Homo sapiens: one gene and its partners. The protein of the gene in region 3 purifies or fractionates together with the protein of the main gene of each other region. This does not show direct contact. Each region holds a gene or a part of one and is shown on either strand. Other genes may lie near its edges. The genes, in order: EPB41L5, PRDM10, PRICKLE3 and METTL18.

Region 1 (7,041 bases), on a different chromosome or scaffold from region 3:
CACATGTGTGATTTTTTTTCTTTAGGTTATCCTTCCAGAAATAGAACTGTTGAGTAAGGAATATGCATGTTAAAATTTCTAGTATTGGTCCGGCGAGGTGGCTTACGCCTGTAATCCTAGCACTTTGGGAGGCCGAGGCGGGCGGATCACCTGAGGTCAGAAGTTTGAGACCAGCCTGGCCAACATGGTGAAACCCAGTATCTACTAAAAGCACAAAAATTAGCTGGGCGTGGTGGCTGGTACCTGTAATCCCTGCTACTCAGGAGGCCAAGGCAAGAGAATCTCTTGAACCCGGCAGGTGGAGGTTGCAGTGAGCCGAGATCGCGCCATTGCACTGCAACCTGGGGGACTAGGTTGAGACTGTCTCAAAAAAAAAAAGAATTAAAAAAATATTAATAGCATGGTCAAGTCTCCCTCCAAAAAAGGCCAACGTAGGAGGATTATTTTTTCTCACATTCTTTTTTACACTATCTTGAGTCTTTAAATGACAGACAATATCTTATTTTTTTTCATTTGGATTTTCTTGGATACTGTTAAAGGTGTTCGTTTTTATGAACATCTTTTAAATTATCTTTTAGGACTTTTTCGTATCTTGCTCTTTGTTCTTTTTTTGATGTAGAGTCTCAGTCTCACTCAGGTTGGAGTGCACTGGTGGGATATCATAAAATGTTTCTTGGGAGATATTGGTGGAGTTAAAAGGAATATGTAGGGATTCTGTGACACAGGATTTTAGAAATCTGGGATAACAAGTACAGTCTTAGGCAGCTGAAATGAGACTGGATAGCAAGTTCCAAAGGGAGAAATACCTGGAAAAAAAAATCTGGAGAAAGAGACTGGGACCAGGTATTATATATGAGTGTTTGGAACACTGGAAAGTTATCTAACTAAAATTTTAGTTATTTCCTTGGGATTAGTTTACCTAATTACGCAAGAGTATACATGTGTAAAATGTGTAGGCTAATCTTCAGTGTATAGACATTTTAATATGGTACTATCTTAAAAATCGGATTTTATCGGGTTTATAAATAAATCTAGTTGAAAAAGTCATTTTATCTGAAGGCTTCTCTTGAAAAACAGCATTCTCCTGAATTCTTTTGCTCCCTCTCCTGAGGCAATCATTTTCACATTTTAAATCAAATGCTCTTACTGCTAATTGTTGATTTTTAAATTCTAGTAATGACCTGTTGGCTTGCTGTTACGCATCATGAGGAATTAGCTCTTTCCATATCTGTATCCCCTACCTCTTATTATGTACCTCCTGTCTGTTGTGGTTATTGTTCGATCAGTATTTAGTATTTGACATTGAAATCATTAGCAGCTGAGTCATGTAGTGTATTGTGATTTACTTTTCCTTTTCTGCACAGCTTCTTGTTTTCTTTGGAATTAATAGTCTTTTTGGCTTATTTGTTGGCTTATGTGTACTTAAACTCTCTTTGTTGTGCAAATGAAACACATGAGGATAGCAAAGTGACTTTGATTTTGTGTTTCCATTTAGTGTGCTATGTTTTAAAACCTGTTTTAACTGTTTTGATTAACATTAATGTTCTTTATAGAGTTAAGGAAAAAAGCATTAAAGTACTTTGACATTAAAAAGATTTATGTTAAGTAGTTATTTAAAATCTGTATGTAATAGAATATTTGACAAAACTTAGGAAATTTGAATTATATCTGTATTTTAGCTGAAATAGGTGATTGTTTTTGTGTTTTTATTATGAATGCTCAGAAAAGAAATGGAACTTCTCAGGATTTTTTTTGAGACAGAATCTCCCTCTGCCACCCGGGCTGGAGTGCAGTGAGGCATCTCAGCTCACTGCAAGCTCCGCCTCCCGGGTTCACGCCATTCTCCTGCCTCAGCCTCCCCAGTAGCCGGGACTACAGGCACCCGCCACCACACCCGGCCAATTTTTTTTTTTTTTTTGAGACGGAGTCTTGCTCTGTCGCCCAGGCTGGAGTACCGTGGCGCCATCTCGGCTCACTGCAAGCTCCACCTCCCGGGTTCATGCCATTCTCCTGCCTCAGCCTCCCGGTAGCTGGGACTACAGGCGCCTGCTACCACGCCCGGCTAATTTTTTTTTGTATTTTTTTTTAGTAGAGACGGGGTTTCACCATGTTAGCCAGGATGGTCTCGATCTCCTGACCTCGTGATCCACCTGCCTTGGCCTCCCAAAGTGCTAGAATTACAGCCGTGAGCCACCGCGCCCGGCCACTTCTCAGAATTTTTATGATCATCAAAGGATACCTTAGTGTCTGACATCATCTTGGGATATACAAGATGTTGTACATATAATTTATCTATTTAGAAGACCTGATGAACTTCATGAATGTTTGCCTTCTCCTGCCAAATCAGTTCCTGATAAAATGGTCCGGTAAATTTAGAAAGCTCCAAACTGTGGCTGTGTCTTATACATACAAGTCTTTTAAAACTTTGAATTAAAGTAACCAGCTTTTTAAATTAATTAATTTACTTTTTAATTGACAAAAATTGTGTATATTTATCATTTATAATATGTCTTGAAATATTTATGAAAAGCCAGTTTTAATGATTTTTTTTTTCAAATTTACTTGACCAGGAGCCCTTTTTGTTTTTTATTTACTTATTTTTTGAGACAGGGTCTTGCTCTGTTGCCTGAGCTGGAATGCAGTGGCGCAATCCCAGCTCACTGCCGCTTTGACTGCCTGGGGTCAAGTGATCCTTCTGCCTCACAGCCCCTCAAGTAGCTGGGACCACAGGCATGCACCACCACACCTGGCTAATTTTATTTTTAGTAGTGATTAGTTCTCACTATGTTGCCCAGGCTGGTCTTGAACTCCTGGGCTCTAGCAGTCCTTCTGCCTAGGCCTCCCGAAGTGTTGAGATTGCAGGCGTGAGTCACTGCACCCAGCCCAGGTGTCCTTTTTAGTAGCATTTCTACTAATGTTCACAGGACTTGACTAAATAATGCCATTTGACTGACTGCAAGTTGTGGAGAATCTCATTTTTTTCCTGATGCCATCTTTTTCTCTCTGTTTTTATAGTGACAAAAATGCTGAGTTTCTTCCGTAGAACACTAGGGCGTCGGTCTATGCGTAAACATGCAGAGAAGGAACGACTCCGAGAAGCACAACGCGCCGCCACACATATTCCTGCAGCTGGAGATTCTAAGTCCATCATCACGTGTCGGGTGTCCCTTCTGGATGGTACTGATGTTAGTGTGGACTTGCCAGTAAGTAGGTCTTGCTGAGCTCCAAATTCTGTTTGCGATTACTGTCTTTGTTTGTTTGTTTAAAAGCTTTGTATTGGTAACTTCTGGATGGAAATAAGTAAAGGTATTATGGGTTAGTATAGATCAGGCACTGTAACATTCAGGTACATGGATCAGATAACCGTAGACCAAAAGTACTTGGATTGGTGGTATTTCTCTTTGGAATTAGTGGCGATTACCTGAAACATTTAAATGACAGGGCAGTTATTGGCATGAGTCTGTTTCATGTGTCTTTCTATGTGTTCTTTGTGATGGCAGCACATGATGTAGTCTAGTGGATTTCTGACAATCCTTGTTGAACCATTATTAAAACGTTGTGAATCTTTGAGAATAACAACACTTAAATGTGTACTGTAAGACTTTTAGCTTCTATGCACTTCTGTATTTTTTAAAACTCTCCTTACTTTCTTCTAAATAAATATTTCCCCACAATTTGGTTTACTTGCAGACATTAATGAGGTGAAGTGAGAAAAAGGACTTTCTTCATACCCCTCAGCTCTGACTGCCTGTCTCTTTGCTCCTGAAGTATTTTGCATTGTAGGTTTTTCATACACTGTAGTCTTTATCTCAAGACAGGCTGTTGTAATTATATTTGCATTTTGGATAGATTTTTTTTTTTTCAGAAATATATAATCATAACTCAGTGTGAAACAATCTGACATGTTTGAAAGGGGTTAGCTTATTTTTTTACAGGACTTTTTGGGTGGAGGAGGGGAAGAAAAGGTTGGCTTTTTGGTTTTGGGCAGTTGAATATTTTTCTGAGTTGCTTGCTAATACCAAATCTCTTTCTCATGTCTTTGTTCTGCATTCAAAGACTTAACGGTAAATTACATCATTTGATGTGAGCTTCATAGGATATTCCTTAATGTCTTTTCTCCCCACAGACTTTTTAGTACACACTCATCTACCCAAAATTCAATTTAAAAAGTCTCTTTGGGCAAAGTGATAGCCTACGTGCTGCTGTAATACATAATTGAATAAGCTCGGGAAGACCTTAAACTCACCAAGTGAGAGTATAAGGAATTGGAGAGTTTGTTTAAATGGATGTTCTGATTAACTTAATAATTTGGAATGTATTAGATATGTACATTATACATTTTAAAATATTAGAATATGATAAAATTAATCAAAGACTCAGGATTTCTTGAAGTGTTTTGAAGTCATCATTACGTGTATTTGTTATCTTTGTCTATAAGAATGTATATTTTTAGGGTTTTTGATTCTGGACAACTTGAAAGCATCTAAATTTTCTTCCTGTAAGTGCTTCTTGAGGGTTTATCAGACATTCCAACATGAGATATTTTGTGAGGATAGTTTTCATACTCATTTCTTATTTGATAGGAATCTTAAGAGTTTTGTTTACTATTTCATTAAAATATCATTGGATATGTGGTGAAAAGCCTGAGATTGCTGTGTAAGAGACTGGAAAGAAATTTCTTATTACCTAATGTTTGAAGTATGAAGTTTCAGGGTTGTTGATGGACAAGCTGATAGTAGGAGAGTAGAATTTGTAAAAAAAAAAAAAAGAGGTTTTTAAAAACGCAGTGCAGTATGGAGGAGAAACAACACTAGCTTTTAAAGTGGTGGAACAAATGGCTAGTTACTGATCTGGAATGGTTTCCTAAACTTTGTATGCTTAGCTGGGTGTATGTGATGCTTGATCAAATTTATAAACTAGCTGGTCTCTCATGGGGACAATTGTAGTGAAACAGCTGGAGATATAGATTGGACTTTTTGTGAAACAAGAACAGTTGTCAGCCAGGTGCAGTGGCTTATGCCTGTAATCCCAGCACTTTGGGAGGCTGAGGCAGACAGAACCCTTAGGCCAGGAGTTCGAGACCAGCCTGGCCAACATGGTGAAACCCATCTGTACTAAAAATACAAAAATTAACCGGGCGTGGTGGCATGCGCCTGTAGTCCCAGCTACTCAGGAGGCTGAGGCAGGAGAATCACTTGAACCTGGGAGGTGGAGATTGCAGTGAGCTGAGATCGCGCCACTGCACTCCAGTCTGGGTGACAGCAAGACTCCGTCTCAAAAAAAAAGAAAAAGGAACAATTGGGCCAGGTGCAGTGGCTCACGCCGGTAATCGCAGCACTTTGGGAGGCCGAGGTGGGCGGATCACAAGGTCAGGAGTTTGAGACCAGTCTGGCCAACATAGTGAAACCCCGTCTCTACTAAAAATACAAAATAGCTGGGTGTGGTGGCGGACGCCTGTAATCCCAGCTACTTGGGAGGCTGAGGCAGGAGAATCGCTTGAACCCAGGAGGCAGAGGTTGCAGCGAGCTGAATTCGCACCACTGCACTCCAGCCCGGGTGACAGTGCGAGACTCCATCTCAAAAAAAAGGAACAACTGTCTTTCCAATTCTGTAGGTGAAATCGTACTTATTAACCTAACTCTAGGTACGTGCATGGATATAAAGTGGTCATTGGCCTGTTTTACTAAATTGTCACTAAAGGAAAAAATAGTCCAGAAGAATAATAATTTCTAAAAAAGAAGAAATGATTTCCCCTTTTCAGATTTATTTTCTCAACCAGTCTACTGTGATTCTGGGAGAAGATTTAGAATTGATTTTAGAAATTGAATGAAGCACATACTCATTTCCCATTACGATAAGGGTCTAGGATAAGGGTCACTAGTGATTATAGTTAGCCGTCTTCTTCCTTTAAAGAAAAAAAATTAAATAGGGTGAGAAGGCCTTTCAGTGAATGACAAAGGTATCAGGTAGAAATTTCTATCTAATTTTTAAGTTTTTTCTTTGAAAATACGACAGTAAACTTGTTTAAGAGCTTAGTATTGGTAAATAGCTTTAATGTAAAACCCTTATAAGTTTTAAATTGGGAAATGTTTGGTCAATTAACCAATAGATAACAATTTTTTTTCCTTTTTTTAAATTGTACTTTAAGTTCTGGGATACATGTGCAGAACGTGCAGGTTTATTACATAGGTATACACGTGCCATCGTGGTTTGCTGTACACATCAACCCGTCATCTACATTAGGTATTTCTCCTAATACTATCCCTCCCCTAACCCCCCACCCCCCGACAGGCCCTGGTGTGTGATGTTCTCCTCCCTGTGTCTGTGTGTTCTCATTGTTCAGCTCCCACTTATGAGTGAGAACATGTGGTGTTTGGTTTTCTGTTCCTGTGTTAGTTTGCTGAGAATGATGGTTTCCAGCTTCATCTGTGTCCCTGCAAAGGACGTGAACTCATCCTTTTTATGGCTGCATAGTATTCCATGGGGTATATGTGCCACATTTTCTTTATCCAGTCTATCATTGATGGGCATTTGGGTTGGTTCCAAGTCTTTGCTATTGTGAATAGTGCTGCAGTAATCATACATGTGCATGTGTCTTTACAGTAAGATGATTTATAATTCTTTGGGTATATACCCAGTAATGGAATTGCTGAGTCAGGTGATATTTCTGGTTCTAGATCCTTGAGGAATTGCCACACTGTCTTCCACAATGGTTGAACTAATTTACACTCCCACTAACAGTGTAAAAGCATTCCTATTTCTCCACATCCTCTCCAGCACCTGTTGTTTCCTGACTTTATTGATGGCCATTCTAACTGGCATGAGATGGTATCTCATTGTGATTTTGATTTGCATTTCTCTAATGGCCAGTGATGATGAGCTTTTTTTCATATGTTTGTTGACTGCATAAATGTCTTTTTTTGAGAAGTGTCCATTCATATCCTTCACCCACTTTTTGATGGGGTTGTTTGTTTTTTTCTTGTAAATTTGTTTAAGTTCCTTGTAGATTCTGGATATTAGCCCTTTGTCAGATAGATAGAT
Region 2 (2,666 bases), on a different chromosome or scaffold from region 3:
TTCAGTAATTTAACAAAGGGAGCCTGCTGAATAACAAAATTAAAATGATGAAACAAAAGTTTGACAGTGATATTCTGAAGCAAAAACTGTCATCTAAATTTTTCTTGCTGATTTTTTTTAACTTCCCTATTTTAGAAAACTATTGTTGGGCTGTTGGTAGTGCTTTCCACAGATGCTGGTCCTCAGTGGATTAGGTCAGAAGCTCATGTTCTGATAGTTCTTCATTATTTCACAAAGGTGGACAACCTGAAAGAGAAAAGGCTGCTTGATGTCAGCAGAATCTAAACCCCTACATTAAAGCTTTGCCTCCCATTCTGTGGTTGTGGTGGTGGTAAGAAGGAGATATTGGTACCAAGAAAAATTTCCAAAACTATTGAGAGAGAGAGAGAGAAAGTATTGAAATTTTGTTCTGCCTTGCAGGATCCATTTATCATTCATTGGTAAAGGATATATTCCTTGTTCTTACCAAGTGTACATTTAACTCTTGCTGACATGTTCAGTGTATTTTATTACTTTTAATGCTGTCTTAAAATGAACATTCTTTAAAGTTGGACAGGAAGGTGGCATTTCTTATTTATTAACATTTTTAACTTTAAACATATTGTGACTCATCTAGACCTTTTAATAAGACGGTCAACTTCACACTTAGGGAAAAAATTAAAATGTGATGGCCACTTCTAATAATTCAGGTAGTTATAAGGGATCTGGAAGAAATCCAGTCTTTATGAATATACTATTAGTTGGGCATTAAAAAATCAGTATATATTTTAACTTTTTGTGACATGCTAACACATTTTCAGAATAATTATTGCATAGTAGAATTTATTACTCCAGAACAGAAAGACCTTACTTCATTTCAAATGAAGTTAATTAATTTACATTTCTGGGTAAAAACTGGTTCTATAAATTAAGTAGAGTAGCTTCTTTATGATAAAGACAATTTTCTGAAAAGTGAACAATTCTGTTAAAAGAACTTTATTGATGTGTAGATTTCGCACTTTATTTCTGAGACTGCGTTCATGTAGTTGTTCCCCAATGTTTGAGTACTAAGAGAACTTGAGAAAATTACTTCATAAACATATGGAAACTGAAAATGGACTCTCTTTGTGACAAAGATATTCAACAGAAAATATTGACCCTGCATTGCAAAACACAGGTTCGGGTTCCCTAAGTCCCACAGTGTAATGATTACAAATATCCTAGTGTCCGGTCTAGAAAGACTTTCTAGGAGAAGACTAGTGGAATTTTCTAAAGGTTCAGTTTTAGCTTTTATAACTTAAATTTGGCCCTGTTACGTTCTTTTTAATTTGAACCATAAGGTATCTCCCCTCCCTTCAGGAATAACTTATTGGAAAACTGAAAAGAATCACTGAATGGAATGTTCATTTTATGGCAGTTGTTTTAAGTTTTAAAATACACAGAGGAAAATATTGTGGAAGGACCTCTTTGTTGCTTTCCCTTCTAAGTTGTCTTCTTCTTCTTCTTCTTCTTCTTCTTCTTTGGTCCTTAAGTGAAATAAAGACTCTAAAACTAATTTGTATATTATCAGCCAGAGATGCGGATGGCAGTCGAGCCAAATCGCATGGCTTTCAGATCAGGTATTCTGCACATTCATTCCAAGGTCATAGATTTTTAAAAGGACCTGGATTTGAAGAGATGGCAAATGATGAGCCATCAGAAAACTTAATTTGGAAAACATGTATGTAGCCAGTGTGGATATTGTGGCCTCTCTCAAGACACATTGACACTGTAGACTTCATTCAGTCCAGTGTGAGTATTTTGGAGTAGGTTGGATGTAGATTTTGTTTTTATCATTGATTTGTACCGACAGAAATAGACATTTCATCATGTAAAATTCCTGTTATTCTGGAAAAACCTATTGTTTTGATCTTCTTGTTTTCTGACTTGGAAGTATCCTTTCAAAAAAACTCTTAAGATATCTAGGTCTAAAAAGCACTTCATGAGATGCTAAAGCTGACCCACTGGTTGAAAATGTTGACCCTATCCTGTTATTTAAATGTGAACATTTATTGTACATTCAGTGAGTTATAGTGTTAATAGTCTTGTGCTATGCAGCAGGTGTAAAAATTAATAAATATATTTTTTAATAAACATGTTTGTATGTGTGAAGCTACAAGAGCTATTTTTTTTTCTTTGAAGAATTGCAACTTTTGGTTTCCAGCGTGGCATACAGGAAGCTTGGAAGTTGTCCCTCCATCCTAGCAATAAGTAAGAAGCTGAGCAAATGGAAAGATCAACATCTCTCCTTAGATCCATCAGAAAGTTGAGCCCACAGGACAAACTGCTGTCCCCAAAATTGGAAAGACAAACAGGCAAATACAGAGAATCATAGCTTATTGAACAGAAACCCGTGAGAAAAAAATCCACGATCAATAACCTCTATGAGAACCAGCGCCAGGGTAGGAAAACTTGAACTATATTTGATGAATTGCTGCAGGCTCAGCGTGGAGAAATCTGAGAGGTTAAAAACTCCAGGGAACTCAGTCACTGGAGGGGGGGTCAAGGGAGACCCACACTTTTGTGAGTTTTATCCCCAGGAGCTTGACTAGGTTCTCACAGTGAAATTTGGAGAAAAATTCCCTCATGCTTCCAGCAGAGGAAGGGGAGAAGGAACCATTTTGAAATACTCCAGAGCTTTCTGATCT
Region 3 (7,041 bases):
TCCACTAAGACTGGGAAAGTGGGGGCAGGGGTCGGAGAATGGCAGGGAGGTGGGAAGTCTGGGAAGTGTGAGGCCTGGAGCAGGCTCTGGGTGTTGAGAGGGTTGGAAGGAAGAACACGGAGCAAGATGGGACTGGTGTGGGGGGCGTGGCCAGGGCACCCGGGGTGGCTTCGGATGGAAGAGGTGTGGCATAGGCTGGAGTAGATTTGGTTTGCAATAAAAGGGGTGGGGCCTGACTGCAGAGGATGAAGGGTGACCGGCTGGAGAAGAGGAAGAGGAACTTGGGGTCAAGCAGAGACAAGTTGAGGTAGGGGACCAGCCCTGTATTGACAGGGTGGAACCAGGGTTCATGAGGCGGGTGTAGTTTGGGATGGAAACCAGGCCTGGACTGGTGTGGGGAAGGAGGATGAGCTGAGAAATGGGCGGGGCCCAGGGATACAGCAGGTGAAGGGCCTGGGCTAGTCAAGAAGGAAGGGCCAGGGCTGAGGCAGGGGCAAGGACATAGGGGTGACTGGGCTGTGGCTGGGTGTGGCTAGAGGGTTAGCTCACCTGGCGCTAACTCTGTGCTGGTGCCTTTGGTGGTGGTCTCTGATGCCCCCTTCACAGCAGAGAAAGAGGCTGTGGAGGCTGCAAGTGGGGCTGTGACAGGGCCGGCACTCCAGCTGCGGCGGCTCGGCCCTGGAGCTGTGGGCTCGGACCCAAGGCTGCAGGCTCGAGAGCAGAAGATTAGGCCTCGGCGTGGCAGGAATGGGCGGCCCAGCAGGGCCCGCCCACAGCGACTACAGCAGAAGCAGCGGTCTGAGGCATGCCAGTGCTGGCCCTCGTAAGCCATCTGGCCTTGGTCCAGGCCTGTGGGGAACGACGAGGGGGAAAAACTGAGGCAGAACCCCCAGGCGTAACCCCACCCCTCGTGAACGAGTCCCTTCTCAAGAAGAGGTGGGGAATCCGAGGCAGGGCACCCCTGGGTGCCTTCCTCCCTCCTCCAGAATGGGGCCCTTTTGGAGAAAGCAGGAAACAGGTTTTGGTTCTCTCCTGGAGACTGGCTGGTGAACCTCTCTCTCACTCCTCCCTTTCTTTCCCAGGGTGCTCTCTCCCAGAGCGGGGTGGGCATTGGACTCTAAGATTCGGGCCAGGCTTAGACATTAGGGGGTGGCTCCAAGTGGAAGGAGAATGGAAAGCTGGGCCTGAAGAGGAGGCCTGGCTGGTGGGGGCAGGGCTTAGCAGGTGGGGAGTGGCCCTGTTGAGAAAGGAGTGGTTCTCAGAGGATAGGGTGTAGCTAGAAGCTAGGCCTGACTTAGGCTGATACAGGAGAGTGGAGGAGAACGGGGCACAGCTTGGGGTGGTAGAGGCTAGGAGTAGGGCGAGCCCTGGGGCTGGAATTAGAGCACCCTCTGGAGGTGGGTGTAGACATGTGGTGGTGGCCTAGCATTGTGTTAGGTGGGGTTTAGAAAGCATGGCATAGTGGGGACATTGGGAGTGGGACTTGCAACCAAGCGTACAGGTCTATAGTGTTGGGGCTGGACAAAGTACAGGGCACAATGGAGGATGGGGCCTGGAGGACAGGAGGAGTCCTGGTGGGGTAGGACTGTGGCCCAGCTGTCCATCCATCCCTCTGTCCAGTCCCACAGCATTCACCCACCGATGTGCTCCCCACAGCCATCACAGTACTCCGCGTGGCGGGCCTCGTAGCAGGCGCAGCAGTGGGGGCGGCTCTGACGCATGACATAGCGCTGCCCTCCTAGTGAAGCTTCACACTCAAAGCAGCAGAAGTGATCCATGTGCCAGTGGCGGCCCTCAGCCTCCGTGCACTCAGGGGAGAAGATGATCTGGAGGGCGCAGGCCATCTGTGGCTGTCAGATGAGCCTGCTCCTGGCCCTGCCCACCCTCAACTCCCACCCCTGGGCAGGGAGGCCCAAACCTCGTCACAGGCTTGGCAGCGTGGACGCAGGCATTCGGCATGGTGACGCCCGCAGTAGACCTTGCCAACATGGTAGAAGTAGATGAGGTCAACCAGCAGTTCCTGGCACGTGGTACACACGAAGCACTGTGGGTGCCAGCAGGCACCCAGGCCTGCACGGCTGGCAAACACTGCGATGTCCCCACCTCCAATCTGCTTTCCGCACTGCCATGAGACAAGCACCAAGATGGTTACCATCACTGTCACCAAGATGGTCAGATGGATGGGGTCAGCCAAAGTATGTTACACTTGGGCCTTTCCCACAGTGAAACTTTGTGATCAGCCCCACCCATGGGGTAACTTTGACACAGGCCCTGCCTATACCAGGGATGGGGTTGGGCGGTACCTTAGAGACTGACCCTGCTCATGAGGGAAGCCGTAGAGACAGGCCCTACCCATGGTGGGTGGCCTTATAGGCAAGCCTCCCTCATCAGGGGTGGGGAAGACAGACAGGCCAGGCCTAGTGGGGGAAACCACAGAGATAGTCTCCACCCACCGGGACCTTAGCAATAGATCTCACCTAACAGTAGGATCTAAGGACAGGCCCTGCTTACCACTGGGCCCTGCAGACAGGCCCTGCCACTGTGGGTCAGCTCTTGAGGACAAGTTCTGACCACAGGAGGACCAAAGAGATAGCCCATGCCCCATGTCCACTGCACAGACGGGGAGAAAAACACACTAAGGCCTCCTTACAGACAAACCCCACACGACAGTGGGATTGATGGGACAGGTCCCTGTCCACCAGGGGTTGCCTTAGAGACAGTCCCTGCCCAACAGTGAGATGTGAGGAACAGACCCCGCCCACAAGAGGGGACCCTAGAGACACCTCACTGGGGCTTAAGTGGCAGGCCTCATCTTCCCAGTGCTTGGAAGATGTGTCCTGCTCCCCAGGGCTTGGAGCAGAGGCACTGCTCACTCGCTGAGGCCCTCCACGGCTCACCTCCTCACAGATGGCCCCAGTGATGGTCACCGGGAAGATGCGCACGATGCCACGCCCCAGATTCTCCCGCTTCCGCTGCTGGCTAAAGGCTCGGAGCTCTTTCTTTTCCTCCTCTTCCAGTGCTGTGCAGTACTGTGCCTGGGAGGAGAAGGCATCTCCCAGGCTCCTCCCTTGATGCCTGTCCCTGCCCCTCTTCCAGACTTCATCCATGCCCCGAAAGTTTACTTCTAGGTCTTTCTATAGATGGTGCCTCCTGCCTGAAGTAACCACCTCTTCTTCCAAGGCCCAGCTGTGGTTTTGCCAAGGAATGTCCCCTGATGACCCCTGCCTGTCTGGACCACTCACCTCAGATCAGCTCACCTTTCCTCCTCTGACCCTGCCCTGCATTGGCCCAGGCTGTGTGCTGTGCCTGGCATGCCCTTCCTGTCTTCTCTCTCCTCACCTCACTGTCGTGTGGGGGCAGCTGGTGCAGCAGCTGCTTGATCCTGTATTTCTCCCCAGGACTGTTGACGTAGGGGACCTTGTCCTCTGGGAGGCAGCTGAAAAATTGATATACCTGGGAGGACATAGGAGTGGGAGAAAACAACTGAAATGAGAGGTGAGTTGGGATGCAGTGAGATGGCGGGTCCCCATTTCTCAGAAAATGAAAGGCATTAGGAGGGACCTTCTGACTCCCTCATCTCTCCTTCCTAAAGGCGGATCATTTCCCTCAGCTCCCAGCTCCCAAACACGCTGAGGGTTCCTGCATGTATTGACCTCACTTCCTCCTCCAGCTGCTGATCACCTTTTTTTTTTTTTTTTTTTTTTGAGACGGAATCTTTCTCTGTTGCCCAAGCTGGAGTGGCGCGATCTAGGCTCACTGCAACCTCCGCCTCCTGGGTTCAAGCGATTCTCCTGCCTCAGCCTCCTGAGTAGCTGGGATTACAGGCATACCACTATGCCCAGCTAATTTTTTATTTTTAGTAGAGACAGGGTTTCACCATGTTGGCCAGGCTGGTCTCGAACTCCTGACCTCAAGTGATCCGCCTGCCTTGGCCTCCCAAAGTGCTGGGATTACAGGTGTGAGCCACCGCGCCCAGTCTACTGATCCACTTTTCTTTTTCCCTTTACAGGAAAATTCCTCAAAAAGTTATGAGCACTTGTGTTCACTCCACTTCCTGTCCTTCCAATCTCTCTTGAGCCTACTTGAGGCAGGCTTCCGCTCCCATCCCTCTTCCAAAGCTGTCAAGGTCATCCATGACTTCCCCATTGTTAAAATCATTGTTCAGGTCTCAGTCGTCATCAGACTTGATGATGGTAGCACTGCACCGAGCTGACCACTCTCTCTTCCTGGAAACACTTTCTTCCCTTGGCTTCCAGGACACCACACAGTCCAGGTTTTCCTTCCACCTTATTGGCTGCTCCTTCTTTGTCCCTGTTTTGGCTCCTCCTCAACTAGCTGACCCCTAAATGCAGGAGGATCCTAGGACTCAGCTCTTGGTCCTCTTGCCTCTGTCTACATTCAATTTCTTGGGAATTACATTCAACCTTATGGCTGTAAATATCATCTACTTGGCTGGCTAATGTGTCACCTCCAGCCTGTGACACATAATGACAAACACATACGTCCAGCTCTGTAACTTATCCCTTGAGTTCCAGGCAATGTGGCTATTTAGATGTCTAACAGGCATCTCAAACTCCAGATGGCCACAACCAAACTTATGCTCTTACCCCTCAAACTGCTCCTGTCTTGGCCTCTCCCACATCAGTTAATCTACCTATCCTCAGGGTCATCTTTCACTCCTCTTTCTCCCACCCCCACAAGCAAATCCTCTGAGTGCTACTTCCAAAATATAGGCTGGGTGCTGTGGATCACACCTGTAATCCCAGCACTTTAGGAGGCCCAGAGGGGAAGATAGCTTGAGCCCAGGAGTCCAAGACCACCCTGGGCAACATGGCAAAACCCCATCTCTACAAAAAATACAAAAATCATCCAGGCGTGATGATGCGTGCCTGTAGTCCCAGCTACTTGGGAGGCTGAGGTGGGAGGATCACTTGAGCTCAGGAAGTTGAGGCTGCAGTGAGCTGTGATTGAGCCACTGCACTCAAACCTGGGAGACAGAGTGAGACCCCCCCCCATATATATATATGTGTGTGTGTATATATATATATATATATACACGTATAATTATTATACGTATATTATTTACGTAAATTATATACGTAAAATAATTATTTTATATATATGTATATAGATGTATACATATGTGTATATATATGTGTATATATACGTATATATGTGTATATATATACGTATATGTGTATATATATACACGTATATATACGTATATATATACGCGTGTATCTATATACGTATATATATATGTGTATATATATATACACACACATATATATATATTAAATAATTATTTATTAAACGGAATTTTGCTCTTGTTGCCCAGGCTGCAGTGCAATGGCATGATCTGGGCTCACCGAAACCTCCGCCTCCCGGGTTCAAGCGCTTCTCCTGCTTCAGCCTTCCAAGTAGCTGGGATTACAGGCATGTGCCACCACGCCTGGCTAATTTTTTTGTATTTTTAGTAGAGACGGGGTTTCTCCATGTTGGTCAGGCTGGTCTCAAACTCCCGACCTCAGGCGATCTGCCTGCCTAGGCTTCCCAAAGTGGTGGGATTACAGGCGTGAACCACTGCACCCAGCCTATTTTTTTTTTTTTTGAGACAGGGTCTTGCTCTGTCGCCCAGGCTGGAGTGCAGTGGTGCAATCTCAGCTCACTGCAACCTCTGCCTCCTGGGTTCAAGGAATTCTTGTGGCTCAGCCTCCCGAGTAGCTGGGATTACAGACATTTGCCACCATGCCAGACTAATTTTTGTATTTTTAGTAGAGATGGGGTTTCACTATGTTGGCCAGGCTGGTCTCAAACTCCTGACCTCAAGTGATCCACTCGCCTCGGCCTCCCAAAGTGCTGGGATTACAGGTGTGAGCCACCATGCCGGCCTTTCTGTCTGTCTGTCTGTCTCTCTCTCCATATATATATAACTCCTTGCACTGCCAGTGCCATCATCATCAGGTTCCTCACTGGTCTCCTGATTCCACCCTTATTCCTCCAGGCTGTCTTCTGCTGACAACCCTCTTGCGACTTCCCTTCATTCACAGGCAAAGCCAAAGTCCTCTCCATAGCCCCTGCCACATCTCTGACCTCATCTCCAGCTGGTCTCCCCCTTGCTCACTCTGCGCCAGCAGCACTGGCCTTGCCATCCCTTACATATGCCAAGCACACGCCTGCCTCAGGGCCTTGGCATTAGCCATGCCCTTTGCCTGTGTGAATCGCTGTAACCTTAGATGTCTGCATGGCTCACTTCTCACCTCCTTTCGGGCAGCTCAACCATTAAATTCTCACAGAGGCTTATTCTGGGCACCCTATTTACAATTCTAGCATCTCTCTCCTTCCCTCTCTCTTTCTTCACCCCACCTTCCTTGCTTTTTAATTCCATAGCCCTTACACCATCTGACATATATTTACAGGTTTGCTTATTGGGTGTTCCTCCTTTCCAGAATCTACCCTCTGCCTGGGCAGATTTTTTTTTTTTTTTTTTTGAGAAGTATCACTCTGTTGCCCAGGCTGGAGTGCAGTGGCACGATCTCAGCTCACTGCAACCTCCGCTTCCTGGGTTCAAACAATTCTCCTGCCTCAGCCTCCTGAGTAGCTAGGATTACAGGTGTGCACCACCACACCTGGCTAATTTTTGTACTTTTAGTAGAGACGGGGTTTTGCCATGTTGGCCAGGTTGGTCTCAAACTCCTGACCTCAAGTAATCCGCCCGCCTCAGCCTCCCGAAGTGCTGGGATTACAGGCGTGAGCCACCGTGCCCGTGGGCAGATATGTTATTTTGTGTTTTGCTCATTGCTGTGTCCTCAGTGCCTAGAACAGTGTCTCACATGCAGTAGGTGCCCCATAACTATGTGTTGAATGAGTCAATCAATGAAGTCATGTGGTGAATGAAGTGCTGGGAGGGTAGAATAGGGAGTGGGGCCACGCATGGTGGCTTGCTCTTGTAATCCCAGCACTTTGGGAGGCCGAGGCAGGATCACTTGAGCCCAGGAGTTCAACATCAGCCTGGGCAACATAGGGAGACCCTGTCTCTAC
Region 4 (6,745 bases), on a different chromosome or scaffold from region 3:
GGCTATAAGGGGTAAACCTCAAGTAGTACAAGTTCTCTGTATTACTTTTATACTCTGTCACAGATTCCCTTTGTTTCCTCATCTCCATGTGAATTTAGTTAAATTCTCAGCATTCTGATCCTTACTATACAAGGTAAATGAATATAAAAACAAAACGAAACAAAAACCTCTTCCTATTTACATAAGGCCCCAACCTAATATTTAGTGATATATATTAATGTGAACAAGGAACTAACGAAGACTGGGAAGAAATTCACAGACTTGAGAGAAGAAATGGCAGGATTTCCTGGGAACAATTTCATGTAACGTCAAAGGTGGTAAAAGGTCAAATAGAATGAAGATGGAGAATACCGGATTTTCTTACAAAATGATTTCCCAGGAGATCTCATCAAATGCACGAGGATACCTTCTCAGTTTCACCTAGTGAGTAAAAGACTGGTAACATAGCTCACTTACAATTTGGATAAACAAAACTAAACAAACAACATCAAAATTTCAGAAAAAATAATAGCAAAACAGAAATCAAACACTCAAATTTTTGGTCCTTCTGTTTATTTCATTTTGGATACTCAGTGAATGTTAATTAACCAGGAAACTTAAAAGTTATTTCAATTATGAACCTCTTCAATCCTTCATCAATTATTTTGAGTATTCTGGTCTTAAAAACATCTCTTTCTTCTACAAACTTCTGAAAGAGATGAACACCTCCACCTACACCAAAATAATGTGCTTTGCTGGCCAAAAGTACACGTCCATTTTTACTTAACAGTCTAAGGAAAGTCTGGTGCAAATTACTATAATAATCTGGGTTGTAAATGGTTTCTGAGGTGAGAATGAGATCATATTTTACAAAAAGTTTTTCACTACTTAGTACAAGCTTACAAAACTCAGACCACTCACCAGAAAAAAATCGGCATTTATATAGTTGTGTTACTTTTGGTTTCCTGCATCTTTTCACATCTGGCTCATTTACATCATTTTCTTCATCTTCCAAAGTGGAGTTAGCTACTACATTAGGTAAGGTTACTTCATCAATCACCATACTGTTATAATCTTGAAAGTGAATTTCTTTGGACCCTCCCTTGAATGCAGTTATACCTAGTAAACCTGATCCACAACCAAGATCCAAGACTTTTTTCCCAGCAAATTTCACTTTGGCCTTTGTGAAATAAGCCAGGAGGTCAAAGGTACATTCCCAGATTTTTAAGCCTCCCTCATAAACACCTGTAATCAGATCAGAGTGAGAAGAAAAGCTTTTTGAAACTATGTTTTCTCCAGGGAAGTTCTCTTTCAACAAGATGGTTTTCACTACTGATAACTTAACATGCTGGAAACCTGGTAATGTTTCTATGACTTTATTTTCTAACATCTTCTTTAAATCTTTAGGCATAGCATGCTCTTTGGCAGCTCTCAAGGAGGGCTGTTTTCCATGTGGCTCCAAGTTCCTTGAACTGCTGGCTGCACTGAGTGGACTGTCTGTGTCTTGAGAGGGAGCTGCATTTTCCATTGACTTATGTTCCCACAAGTGATCCTGAGGCAAGTCAAATTGTTCTGCAGAACATTTTCTGTCCCTCTCTTCTCCTTTTTGACTTTCTGAGACTGACAGCTCTTTTGAGGAATCCAGGGTCAAAGCTCCATCTCTAATGGGTGTTAATTCATTTTCCAGATGGTCTTCTATAGTGAAATTAAACTGAAAGGTCATCCTCTTATTAAATGCACACAATCTTTAAATTCAGATTCTTCAACTTCTGGATAGAATTTGATGATACACACAAATCTGCCTCAATTATTCAATTAGTTTTGTTGGGCCCAATTTCTCTTTAGCAGCTTATACATGGTAACAAATATTTAGAGATATTTCCAAATGACTTTTTAGACGTCTTTGGTCCTCTTTCCAAGCAGCTCTGGAAAGAAAAAAAAAAAAAAAAGAAAGAAAATGATGATTAAAGCAAAATGGCACATTTCACTAAAGTGTAATATTAAACAGCCACCCCCACCCCTCCCTGTCCCACCATACAGCTGCTTTTTCTTAAAAAGTTGTGGGGAAGAGAGAGAGATAAGAGATTTGGACACTCATACACACCTTAAGGGTTCCAAAGTGGGAGAAGAAAATCAACTATAAAAACAAACAGAAGAACAACAGCAACCACCACCACTACCACCTGGACAAACATAAAGTCCAAGATATTCAGACAGGACAGCCTAGCTACTTGCTGTCTTTCAGCTGTCTTGATTTGTGTCCAACCATATTCACCCCCTAAGCTTCCAGAATAACTTCACTTCTGTCTTTTACAGAAGAGGTGCAGTATTTTATTTTGGTAAGTCAGCGTCCCTTTAAAAACATGCATAGGTATGGCCTGGTGTGTGTAAATTCATCCAAGACTTCACTCCAAACATTTAGTCGAGAACAGCAGCCCTAAGTGTATAGAAGTGGGGGTAATTTGGCAATAATTAGTAAAGACTAATTCGGTGGCAGAGCAAACGCAAACTAGGGCACTGCAGTAGTTTGGAGAGACCTGTAGAAATAAGAAGCAACTTTATTGAGAATCTTCTATCTACTGCGCTAGACACTATACCATCTGCCTCAATTTTCACAGTTCTGGCAAGTGGGATCTTTGTTCCCTTTATACAAGATTTACAATTTGGGGGAGAGGCGGGTCACCCAGTCCCGCGGCTAGGAACGCGCCTCTTTCCTCTCCCATCACGCTGCAAGGCTTGGAGTCACTTCCGGCTGCAGGTCCCGGAACAAATCCGACCCCAGAAGTGGGGACTTCTGGCCCTCACCTCCCCATTTGAATGTAATGTTTACAGTGATCCAGACCTGGGGATGCTTGCTTCCCGACGTGTCCTGGGATCGCGCTTCTGAAAAAGCTCACCTCACAACGCCTCCTCCGGACCTAAATCGCGCACCAGTGAGTCGAGTCCTCCAGGGGCTAGAGAAGCCCGACTTTCTTTCCGGCCTTGAGGGACCCGGGCTCACCAAGAAACCAGCCGCCCTCCTCTCTATGGTTTTGGAGCCGGCGGAGAGCGCGCAAGGGTTGGCGGGACTGCGAGTTTCCGGTCTGGGCTTTGGCGGGTCTGGTTTGAAGCTCTCCTGTTTGACGAAAGTATGTCTCAGGAAGGTGCGGTCCCAGCTAGCGCGGTTCCCCTGGAAGAATTAAGTAGCTGGCCAGAGGAGCTATGCCGCCGGGAACTGCCGTCCGTCCTGCCCCGACTCCTCATATCCTTCCTTGGTTGTCACTTCTACCTAGAGAAGGGTGTGGGCGGGTCGCGAACCTTTCTCTTCTGTCCCTTCAGACCCACCGCCAGGCTGGGTTATATTACCGCGGCCTGAACCCCCTCTTTTCTTTGTCAGTGAGTGGGATGAAAAGTGAGGGACTGGAGGGGAAGCGACAACCGTGGTAGATTTAAGTAAGGCTTTGGCCCTGGAAAGCCTCGCGGACGTGTTCTGACCCAAGGTTTTAGCAGTGGATGTGGCGTTTTCTTCCATTCCTTCTTTCAGTTTTTCTGTACTCGTTGCTTGCAATTAAGTGTAAATACTTTTGCTAGTGGATAATGGGGGAGGCAAGGACTGAGACCTGCGGTATGACGATAGCTCTGGCTCTTAATAGTTTGAGGTAAAGCGAGATACTCTGAGCTTTTGTCTCCCGTAAAAAGGGTGGTGAATATGAATAAGGGCTTTCTTAGCGTTATAAGAATTAAAGGGCATAGTTCTGTGGTGTGAAATCTTTAAAAGATGTTCAGTAAATAAAAATGATTTTCCTCCTTCCCCTCTCAGACCTCTTTTTCTTCTTTCTTTCTTTTTTTTTGACAAGTTCTCACTCCTCTCACCCAGGCTGGAGTCTTTCTGAAAGAGTTCTTCCGCTTGTTGTTGGCTTTCAACTGTTGGATTTGAGGCGCTTAGCGCCTTCTTCGTCCGGGTGCAGCACATTCTTGATTGGTCTCATGCCTTTGTGGTTGTAAATGTGCCTGGAATCCTAGCCTTTCATGGTAAACCATATGTATATGTATCTTTTTCACAACATTTGAGCCCAGCTTTATACAATTACACTCAAAAGAAAAAAAGTAACCTTCACTTGAGAGAATCTCAATACTGCACAAATATTGTGCAGCTAAAGCCCTATGTAATCACATAGAAGTCATTCACCTAGGCATTAGCAAAATCTCAGAAGGTGCCAAAGCCCCCTTTTTTAGTTTTTGTGTAGGTACAGAACTGCCGTCTTCAAGGAGTTTCAACTTGAAAACAAATAGCCACCCTCAAAACATTCAAAAACACTTAAACTGCGTGCATAATGTGTGTGAGACATGGTGTTAGGCTTTGGGAGAACAGAGACACGGAACGTGATTCCTCTTCTTCCCCACAAGCTTATAGAGAGACTTCATTAAGTTGAAAGTCAACATTCCCACCTAGCTTTGCACTTCAAACGACATATTCAAAAAAGCCCAAACTTCCTCTAGTTTTCTTCATCTGAGTAAATGGTTTCACAAACTGAAACCTTGAATCCTCTCTGTCTCACACACCCGATCAGTAAGTTCTATTGTTTCTGATTCCAAACTATGTCTTGAATCAATCCGTTTATCTCCATCCTCATTGCTACCACTCTGATTCCAAACCCTTATCACCTCTCACTTGGAGTATTAATAGTTTCCTTGTTTCTACTCATAATTCATTATTCCAAAAAAGTTAAGAGGGGAAAAACATAGATCTCGTCATTTCCCTTTTTAAACCACTTTACCTTCAAGGTTCCAGGTGATCTAAGCCTTGCCCTTCTCTCATACCTAGTTAATTAACTACACTCTGTTCATGAATACATTAGGCTCACCTACCTCAAGATCTTTTTGCTCAGCCTGATTTGTTCTCTCAGCCTTTTGCATATTTCATGTTTATGTCTTGGCCCAAATGTCACTTCCTTAGAGGGGCTTTTTCAGAGCCTTCAATCTTAGGCAGTTCCCCCAAACGCAGTCTTACACTTGTATCACATTGGCCTGTTCAGTTTTCTAAAAAGCACATTACCATTAAAAGAAATGCTCTTGTTTGCTTTGTATATTTTCCACTTCTACACATTATGTTGCAAAGTTCATAAAGGCAGGATGTTGATTTTCTTCACAGCGTTACCCTCAGCACCTAGAACAGTGCCTGACACATAGTAAGCATTCATTAAAGGGCTAAAAATATTTCATGTTTTAAAAATACTTGGGAGTCTAATTAGACAATACTTTTTTTCAGCTTAATGGTAGTATTTTAGCTTCACTATTTTAACAAATGAAAAATTTGCAATAAATCTACAATGCCATTACCCCCCAAAATCTTTTTCATGTTTTGCATTTTACGTATTATTTTCCAGGCCTTACCTGCATGTCTGCATAATCATAACTGACTAATTTTGGAACAGCTGGTAATTATTTGAGCTTTACTGAAATTTTTTCATGAGGCCAATTCTACCCTACTGAACTCAAATTTGAGTTAATGATGACCTCATTTTGATTGCTGCTGTAAAAAATAAGATTTCGGAAGAGGAATGAATTCTTGTATTACTGTGGTAGGACTATGGGTTTTTTTTTGTTTGTTTGTTTGTTTTGAGACGGAGTCTCACCCTGTCACCCAGGCTGGAGTGCAGTGGTGCGATCTCAGCTCACAGCAGCCAGGTTCAAGTGATTCTCCTTCCTCAGCCTCCCGAGTAGCTGAGATTACAGGCACGTGCCACCATGCCCGGCTAATTTTTTGTATCTTTAGTAGAGATGGTTTCACCATGTTGGCCAGGCTGGTCTCGAACTCCTGACCTCGTGATCCGCCTGCCTCAGCCTCCCAAAGTGCTGGGACTACAGGCGTGAGCCACCGTGCCCGGCCGGGTTATTCATTTTTCTTATTAACATTCTTTGATGATTCTTATGGTGTTGTTACAGTAAAACATTTCTAACAATTATTCTAACAATTATTCTTGATGGTGTATATGAAGAATTTATTGTCGTGTATTTGTAAGCTGCTATGTGCAGAAGAATTTCAGTCAAATAAAGTTGGTAAGATAGGTATGTAAGTAATATGAAAAAAGATAGAAGGTGATGAGTGACTTAGGTATAAATTAAGTACAATAGAAATGTTGAGGAAAGAAAAATTTCTTGTAATAGAAATCGGAAGTACAAACTGGGCATGGTGGTGTGCATCTCTAATCCCAGCTCCTTGAGAGGCTGGTATGGGAGGATCACTTTAGCCCAGGAGCTTGAGGCTGCAGTGAGGTGTGATCATGTCACCGCACTCCATCCTGGGTGACAGCAAGACCGTCTCTCTTTTTTTTTTTTTTTGAGACGGAGTCTCGCCTATGCTGGAGTGCAATGGCGCGATCTTGGCTCACTGCAACCTCTGCCTCCCAGTTTCAAGTGATTCTCCTGCCTCAGCCTCCTGAGCAGCTGGGATTACAGGTGTGCGCCACCATGCCCAGCTAATTATTTTGTATTTTAAGTAGAGACGGGTTCTCACCATACTGGCCAGGCTGGTCTTCAACTCCTGACCTCTTGTTCGCCCATCTAGGTCTCCCAAAGTGCTGGGATTACAGGTGTGAGCCACCCCACTTGGCCCCGAGCGAGACCCTCTCTCTAAAAAAAAATAAATAAATAAATCATAAACCTGTGGATTATTGTAGCATTGTTTCTCATCTGTCAAAAATATTTCATGACTATGCATAGTTTGAAAAGGCAAGTTTGTCCCTGGGCAATTTTCAAAATATTTCTTTAATGTGTTTTCACAATA

Evidence for each region.
Region 1: the proteins of PRICKLE3 (region 3) and EPB41L5 purify together in Homo sapiens (affinity purification with mass spectrometry; 2 studies listed by BioGRID and IntAct, with this or other methods). This does not show direct contact.
Region 2: the proteins of PRICKLE3 (region 3) and PRDM10 purify together in Homo sapiens (affinity purification with mass spectrometry; 2 studies listed by BioGRID and IntAct, with this or other methods). This does not show direct contact.
Region 4: the proteins of PRICKLE3 (region 3) and METTL18 purify together in Homo sapiens (affinity purification with mass spectrometry; 2 studies listed by BioGRID and IntAct, with this or other methods). This does not show direct contact.

Annotation. Positions count from the first base shown.
Region 1 is NC_000002.12:120,016,062-120,023,102, forward strand, and holds part of EPB41L5 (band 4.1-like protein 5), read left to right. Parts: intron 1-2,868; exon of another isoform or gene 2,869-2,887; intron 2,888-3,015; 5' UTR 3,016-3,023; coding exon 3,024-3,203; exon of another isoform or gene 3,204-3,207; intron 3,208-7,041. UniProt on the Homo sapiens protein: Plays a role in the formation and organization of tight junctions during the establishment of polarity in epithelial cells.
Region 2 is NC_000011.10:129,899,179-129,901,844, reverse strand, and holds the end of PRDM10 (PR domain zinc finger protein 10), read left to right. Parts: 3' UTR 1-2,134; downstream 2,135-2,666.
Region 3 is NC_000023.11:49,176,354-49,183,394, forward strand, and holds part of PRICKLE3 (prickle planar cell polarity protein 3), read right to left. Parts: intron 3,454-7,041; coding exon 3,340-3,453; intron 3,036-3,339; coding exon 2,898-3,035; intron 2,123-2,897; coding exon 1,919-2,122; intron 1,827-1,918; coding exon 1,640-1,826; intron 850-1,639; coding exon 550-849; intron 1-549. UniProt on the Homo sapiens protein: Involved in the planar cell polarity (PCP) pathway that is essential for the polarization of epithelial cells during morphogenetic processes, including gastrulation and neurulation.
Region 4 is NC_000001.11:169,791,994-169,798,738, forward strand, and holds METTL18 (histidine protein methyltransferase 1 homolog), read right to left. Parts: upstream 2,915-6,745; 5' UTR 2,822-2,914; exon of another isoform or gene 2,084-2,821; intron 1,905-2,083; 5' UTR 1,703-1,904; coding exon 584-1,702; 3' UTR 536-583; downstream 1-535. Other genes in the region: FIRRM (FIGNL1-interacting regulator of recombination and mitosis), read left to right, coding at 3,110-3,220. UniProt on the Homo sapiens protein: Protein-L-histidine N-tele-methyltransferase that specifically monomethylates RPL3, thereby regulating translation elongation.